2 linked regions of the Homo sapiens genome follow. The protein of the gene in region 1 purifies or fractionates together with the protein of each later gene. This does not show direct contact. Each region holds a gene or a part of one and is shown on either strand. Other genes may lie near its edges.

Evidence for each region.
Region 2: the proteins of LTV1 (region 1) and PNO1 purify together in Homo sapiens (affinity purification with mass spectrometry; one large-scale study listed by BioGRID and IntAct). This does not show direct contact.

What each region holds. Positions count from the first base shown.
Region 1 is NC_000006.12:143,849,312-143,853,683, forward strand, and holds part of LTV1 (protein LTV1 homolog), read left to right. Parts: intron 1-819; coding exon 820-907; intron 908-4,372. UniProt on the Homo sapiens protein: Essential for ribosome biogenesis.
Region 2 is NC_000002.12:68,164,388-68,168,323, reverse strand, and holds part of PNO1 (RNA-binding protein PNO1), read right to left. Parts: intron 3,387-3,936; coding exon of another isoform or gene 3,365-3,386; exon of another isoform or gene 2,450-3,364; intron 1-2,449. UniProt on the Homo sapiens protein: Part of the small subunit (SSU) processome, first precursor of the small eukaryotic ribosomal subunit.

The DNA of each region.
Region 1 (4,372 bases):
AAGGGCTGTGCCATTACTAGAGATTAGGACATTATCTCTAGTTTAAGAGGAAAATGTTTAATTTTGGTTTGAAATTTCAGGCAAGTGGAGTTAAGAAACTCTGGGATTTGAATCCCAGAATCTCACTTACTGATCATTCTCAGGCAGGTGGGCCATTTAAACTTTCCTAGTTTTTGTTCTTTTGGTAAAACATGGTGATACCTCATGGGATCTGAGGGATAAATGGAATAATTTGCTAGAGAAGGCATTGTGATGTATTATAGAGAGTTACTTTTGGGTTTATGATGGAATATACATGTTTAACATATATACAACCTGGAGCACAGGTGAGAGAACACAGAATGTAGTTGTAATAGTTTCCTAGGACTGCAGTAACAAATTACCACAAACTAGGTGACTTAAAACAACAGAAATTTCTTCCTTCATGGTTCTGGAGGTCAGAAGTTTGAGATGAAGGTATCAGCAGGTTTGGTTTTTTTCTTGGGGGCTTAGAGGGAGAGGCTGTTGAATGGCTCATTCCTAACTTCCGAAGGTTACCGGTGATCATTCCTTGGAATTCCTTGCCTTATAGAGGCCTCACTCCAGTCTGCTGTCATCTGCACATGGCATTCTCCCCTGTGAGTCTCTGTCTTCATGTGGTCTCGTTATAGGACCATGGTCCAGTAAGACCTCATCTTATTATAGTTGAGAGGACCCTATTTCAAATATGGTCAGTCTAAGGTTCTGGATGGACATTGATTTGGGGGGGACTTCAACCCGGTACACTAGTTAAGAAGAATTTCCAAATAAACCTAACCATTGTGCAATTTCTTTTTCAAGAGCACTGGAATTAAGTTGCCTTCATCAGTGTTTGCTTCAGAGTTTGAGGAAGATGTTGGATTGTTAAATAAAGCAGCTCCAGTTTCAGGTATTTTTAATTGCTTTATCTTTTCATATGGATAAATGTATTTTGCAAAACATAAAGAAATGATGTAGGATTTTTCTATCCCCAGTAAAGTATTGAAACAATTGAGATATGTCTGGAATTCAGATCAGGGATTATTAGGAAGGGATGAATGTGATCTTTGTATTTTTGTATTCCTACCATCAAATCTTTATATCTTTTGAGTTCCTGTTTGGAGAGGAAAGTGGGGAAACTATTCTTGGTAATCTAGTTAGGGGAATTGTAACCTTCACATAACCTCTTGCAAAGATAGTGGTATTAATTATTCATTACTTGTAGTGTAATTTTGAAAAATAATCTGTTTTTCAGAATTTCTCCCCAGAGCATACAGGTATTTTTATGGAAGTTCATTTTGCCATCTACACATATATTGGGGGAAATTTTTTATTTTTAATTTGTAGTACCAACACTGTATTTCAGAACAAACACAAAAGTCTACAGAAGTGGTGTTGGTATTTTCTCCCAAGTTGCCTTAATTATTAACTAACACCTGTCCTGTGGCATTCATTAATTAATTTATTGTACAGATTTTTGAGTTGCCACTGTCTGTGTGGCAGGGCCTTGGGTTAAAACAGAATAAAGCATAGTCTCTGACCCAAGAATTTACCTCATTTGGGAAAAATAAACAATAAATGATAAATTACAGTATAGATGGATATTAATAGTGGGGTGAGTAGCACCAAACCCAGCATCACAGGGTTGGGCAAGGCTTTCTAAAGAAGGTGATATCTAGTTTGTTTCTTAAGTAAAAGTTAGGTAGGTGGAAGAAGGAGGGGGAGGGGTGGGGACCAGAGGATGTTCCAGACAGAGGACTGTATGTCCTAAGGCAAGAGAACGTGAATATAGGTAACTATACACATTTTAGCCTGCCCAGAAGGAAGGGTATGGATTAAAAAGAAATGAGGCTGGAGGGTTAAGTAATGGCCATGTAGCAGAGGGTGTTGGAGGCCATGTCAGATGATAAATTTGGAGTTGAAAGTTTTTCATGAACTTGAGTTTTTTGTTTTCATTTTCTGCTCCTTGTGGAGCAGGGCTAAGTCCTAAGCAGTGTGCCCAGAGTCAGCCTAGTATATTTATAGATGGAAGAACATATCTGAAGAAACAGGTAGGTATTTATTAAAATCGCAAAGTCAGAAAATACTGAAAGTATAACAGTCTAAAAATTGTTCGAGTTATTTTTAACAGGTGAATTTAAAGGCCAGTTTCTTCTTGCAGACAAAAGCTTTGAATTATGCTAGACAAAGTTAAACATTATAGATGTTTAATGGAACATTATTTTCACCAGTGGATATTAAAAGGAGAAGCATCATTTCTTTTTTCATTTTTTTTTTTAAATTATACTTTAAGTCCTGGGATATATATGCAGAATGTGCAGGTTTGTTATGTAGGTATACACGTCATGGTGGTTTGCTGCACCCATCAACCCATCATCTACATTAGGCATTTCTCCTAATGCTATCCCTCCCCTAGGCCCCCATCCCCCAACAGGCCCCAGTGTGTGATGTTCCCCTCCCTGTGTCCATATGTTCTCATTGTTCAACTCCCACTTATGAGTGAGAACATGCGGTGTTTGGTTTTCTGTTCCTGTGTTAGTTTGCTGAGAGTGATGGTTTCCAGCTTCATCCATGTCCCTGCAGAGGACATGAACGTGTCCTTTTTTATGGCTGCATAGTATTCCATGGTGTATATGTGCCACATTTTCTTTATCCAGTCTGTCATTGATGGGCATTTAAGTTGGTTCCAAGTCTTTGCTATTGTGAACAGTGCTACAATAAACCTACGTGTGCATGTGTCTTTATAGTAGAATGATTTATTATCCTTTGGGTATGTACCCAGTAATGGGATTGCTGGGTCAAATGGTATTTCTGGTTCTAGATCCTTGAGGAATCGCCACACTGTCTTCCACAATGGTTGAACTAATTTACACTCCCAACAACAACATAAAAGCGTTCCTATTTCTCCACATCCTCTCCAGAATCTGTTGTTTCCTGACTTTTTAATGATTGCCATTCTAACTGGCGTGAGATAGTTTCTCATTGTGGTTTTAATTTGCATTTCTATAATGACCAGTGATGATGAGCTTTTTTTCATGTTTGTTGGCTGCATAAATGTCTTCATTTGAGAAATATCTGTTCCTATCTTTTGCCCACTTTTCAATGGGGTTGTTTGTTTTTTTCTTGTAAATTTAAGTTCTTTGTAGATTCTGGATATTAGCCCTTTGTCAGATGGATTGATTGCAAAAATTTTCTCCCATTGTGTGGGTTGCCTGTTGACTCTGATGATAGTTTCTTTTGCTCTGCAGAAGCTCTTTAATTTAATTAGATCCCATTTGTCAATTTTGGCTTTTGTTGACATTGCTTTTGATGTTTTAGTCAAGAAGTCTTTGCCCATGCCTATATCCTGAATGGTATTGCTTAGGTTTTCTTCTAGAGTTTTTATGGTTTTAGGTCTTACGTTGAAGTCTTTAATCCATCTTGAGTTAATTTTTGTATAAGGTGTAAAGAAGGGGTCCAATTTCAGTTTTCTGCATATGGCTAGCCAGTTTTCCCAATGCCATTTATTAAATACGGAATCCTTTCCCCATTGCTTGTTTTTGTTAGGATTGTCAAAGATCAGATGGCTGTAGATGTGTGGTGTTATTTCTGAGGCCTCTGTTTTGTTCCATTGGTCTATATATCTGTTTTGGTACCAGTACCATGCTGTTTTGATTACTGTAGCCATGTAGTATAGTTTGAAGTCAGGTAGTGTGATGCCTCCAGCTTTGTTCTTTCTGCTTAGGATTATCTTGTAAATTACTTTGGGCAGTATGGCCATTTTTATGATATTGATTCTTCCTATCCATGAGCATGGAATGTTTTTCCATTTGTTTGTGTCCCCTCTGATTTCTTTGAGCAGTGGTTTGTAGTTCTCCTTGAAGAGGTCCTTCACATCCCTTGTAAGTTGGATTCCTAGGTATTTTATTCTCTTTGTAGCAATTGTGAATGGGAGTTCCCTCACAATTTGGCTCTCTGTTTGTCTATTATTGGTATATAGGAATGCTTGTGATTTTTGCACATTGATTTTGTATCCTGAGACTTTGCTGAAGTTGCTTATCAGCTTAAGGAGATTTTGGGCTGAGATGATGGGGTTTTCTAAATAGACAGTGATGTTAATCTGCAAACAGAGACAATTTGACTTCCTCTCTTCCTATTGGAATACGCTTTATTTCTTTCTCTTGCCTGATTGCCCTGGCCAGAACTTCCAATACTGTGTTGAATAGGATTGGTGAGAGAGGGCATCCTTGTCTTGTGCCGGTTTTCAAAGGGAATGCTTCCAGCTTTTGCCCATTCAGTATGATATTGGCTGAGGGTTTGTCATAAATAGCTCTTATTATTTTGAGATATGTTCCATCAATACCTAGTTTATTGAGAGTTTTTAGCATGAAGGGGT
Region 2 (3,936 bases), on another chromosome or scaffold:
GTCCCTATTTCATCTTGTAACATACAGGATCTAATTGTCAGGTATTTTAAATGTTAAGTCTCCACCCCAAAGCGACCAGGGGTTGTACATTTACTCGGTATACAAGCATTAGGACCCCTCTTATATTCAGAGCTCCTCCTATAACCTGTTAAATAAGTATACTTGGCCAACGCATTCAGCATAAATTCCTGTCTCATCCTTTCCTCCTTCAGAGTGCCTGCTTTTGGTCTCTGCTGAAGGCTATACTTTCCAGCCTGTCAGAATGGCCACCCTGCAGACTGCAACCCTTTCTAAGAAATAAAGTTTCCTCTCCAAATTTATAGATCTTGTGATTCTTTTCTTGACAATCTCAAATTGGAAATGCAGCTTTTATGTGGGTGCAGGATTGTTCTAAGAAAGACACATCTATAGAGTCTAATATGATGGAGAAAAAAATTAAGTCATTATATGACAACTTACAGCAAAAGGAAAATGAAGGATCTAAAGCTGGAGAACTTAACGCCAGCAAAGGATGCTTCGATAATGTTAGAAAGAGGTGGCTTTAAAAATGTCAGGGTAACAGGAGAAGCAGCTTCTGCTCACCAAAGGGCAGCAGACAAGTTCCCAGATGCCATTAAGAAAATCACTGAGGAGAAATAATATCTGCCTGAACAGGTTTTTTGTGCAGATGAAAAACGTCCTGTTCTGGAAAAAAATGTCACAAAGGGCAATTATTAGTAAAGAAGAGAAGCAAACACCAGGATTTAATGCAGGAAAGGATAGGCTATCTTTACTGTTTTGTGCAAATGCAGTCAGGTTTATGATCAGGACTGCCGTTATCTATAAAGCTGCTAACCCCGATCCTTGAAGGGAAAAGGTAAACACCAGTGGCCTGTCTTCTGGATGTACAAGAAGGCTTGCACAAGGAGAGCTCTTTTTCTGGATTGATTCCATTGATGCTTTTTCCCTGAAGTCAGGAAGTATCTTGCCAGTAAGGAATGCCTTTTAAAGCTCTTTTGATGTTGAGCAATGTCCCAGCCACCCAAGAACCCCATGAGTTCAATACCGAAAGGCAACAAAGTGGTCTCCTTGCACCCACTCTCTAATTCAGCCTCCAGAACAGGTAGTCATAAAGACCTTTAAGGTTCATTACACACACTACTCTATGGAAAATAGTGTCAATGCTATGGAAGAGAACTCGATGGAAAGAACATCATAAAAGTCTGGAAGGACCATGCCATTGAAGACACTGTCATTATTATGGAAAAAGCTGTGAAAGCCTCATGCCTGCAGCTATAAATTCCTGCTGGAGAAAACCATGTCCAGAGGTTTTGCATGACAGTACAGGATTTACGACAGAGCCAAACAAGAAATCATGAAAGAGACTGTGGATATGGCCAAAAGTGAGGGGTGAAGGGTTTCAAGATATGGATCACGGAGAAATCAAGAGCTAACAGACACTATGCCAGAGGAATTAACAGAAGACGACTTGATGGAGGTGAGTGCTTCTGAAGCAGTGCCGGGTGATGAGGAAGATGATGTAGAAGCAGCAGTGTCAGAAAACAAGGTGACATTAGACAATTTGGCAGAAGGTTTCTGATTATTCAAGATGCTTTTGACGTCTTTTATGACATAGACCCTTTTATGACGTGGGCACTGAAACTAAAAACTGTGGAAGAGGATTGGTACCCTACAGAAACATTTTTAGAGAAGTGAAAGGGCAAAAAAGTCAGAAATTACAATGTATTTCTGTAAAGTTCCAGAGTATGCTTGCCTCTCCTGCCTCGCCTTCCACATCTTCCTCCTCTGCCACCCATGAGACAGCAAGATTAACCCCTCTTCCTCGTCTTCCTTAGCTTATTCACCATGAAGACCTTTATGATAACCCACTTCCACTTAATGAAGAGTAGATAGATTTTCTCTTCCTTATAATTTTCTTAATAACATTTTTTCTCTAGCTTACTTTATGAAAGAGTACAGTATATAATACATATAACATACAAAATATGTGTTTATCAACTGTTTGTTATTGGTATAGCTTCCAGCCAAAAGCAGGAGTAGTTAAGTTTTGGGAGAGTCAAGTCATACATACATGGATTTTCAACCATGTTAGGGGTTCAGCATCCCTAATCCCTGCAATATTCAAGGGTCAACAGTATACCTGTGCAATGAAATAGTACTTGCCAATAAAAAGGAACTACTGATACACCCAACAAAATGGAGAAATCCAAAATAACATGCTAATTAAGAGAAGTCATACACCAAAGCCTACATACTGTGTATTTCCATTTATATGAATTTCTAGAAAATGCAAAATAAGAGTGACAGAAACAAGAGCAATGGTTGTCCCAGAAAAGGGTGGGGGCAGGCAACTGACCATAAAGATGCACGAGGGAACTTTCAGGGTAAGAGAACTGTATGAGTGTCATGGGACTACAATATACATTTGCCAAAAACTCATTGAACGGGATACTTAAAACAATAGAATTTTATTGTATGTAAATTATGCCACAATAAACTTCTAAAACGTTGGTTTAACTAGTAAATTTTAGGTTAACACTTACAAATATACTTATAAATTTACCAGTAATAAACTTAATGACAGACTATATAATTTCATTGGCAAATCAGTTAGTTTTAGATTTCTAAATTCTTTTTTTTTTTGAGACAGAGTCTCACTGTCGCCCAGGCTGGTTTCGAATTCCTAACCTCAGGTGATCCACCCGCCTTAGCCTCCCAAAGTGCTGAAATTACAGGTGTGAGGCACCATGCCCAGCCGTTTTTTTTTTTTTTTTTTTTGAGATGGAGTCTCACTCTGTCGCCCAGGCTGGAATGCAGTGGTGCAATCTTGACTCACTGCAGTCTCCGCCTCCCAGGTTCAAGCAATTCTCCTGCCTCAGTCTCCCAAGTAACTGGGATAACAGGCATGTGCCACCACACCCAGCTAGTTTTTTTTTTTTTGTTGTTTTTTTTTTTTTTTTGAGACGGAGTCTCGCTCTGTCGCCCAGGCTGGAGTGCAGTGGCGGGATCTCGGCTCACTGCAAGCTCCGCCTCCCGGGTTCACGCCATTCTCCTGCCTCAGCCTCCCAAGTAGCTGGGACTACAGGCGCCCGCCACTACGCCCGGCTAATTTTTTGTATTTTTAGTAGAGACAGGGTTTCACCGTTTTAGCCGGGATGGTCTCGATCTCCTGACCTCGTGATCCGCCCGCCTCGGCCTCCCAAAGTGCTGGGATTACAGGTGTGAGCCACCGTGCCGGGCCATGGATTTCTAAATTCATGAAAGCTTTCAGGGCTACTCAGCCAGTCCATGACTTGATGATTTAACCGAAGATTTTTTTTTGACTTTATAATTGCGCCAAAGTGGTACACACTCGGAATGCTCTTCAGTTTTCAAAGAGAAGTATCCTATGATATCAAATGAAGTATCAAATGAACTTCTGACTTATGAGATCATTAATTTACAACAGGTTTATCTGGACGTAACCCCACCATACGGTGAGGAGCATCTGTATATGGATTTTAAATTAATTAATTTTTTATTTTTTGGATACAAGGTTTCACTCTGTCACCCAGGCTAGAGTGCAGTGGTGCCATCATGGTTCACTGTGGTCTTGACATCCTTGGTTCAAGCAATCCTCCCACCTGAGCCTCCTGAGCAGCTAGGGCTACAGGTGTGCACAATCACACCTAATTTTTATATTTTTTGTAGAGATGGAGATCCCTATGTTGCCCAGGCTGGTCTTGAACTTCAGGGCTCAAGCATTCCTTCCTCCCACCTTGGCCTCCCAAAGTGCTGGGATTATGGGCATGATCCACTGCGCCCAGACTATATGTGGTATTTTTATTTTTATTTTGTTAGAGTCTCACTCTGTCGCCCAGGGTTGAGTACAGTGGCACGATCGTGGTTCCCTGCAGCTTCAACCTTCTGGGCTCAGGTGATCCTCCCACTTCGGCC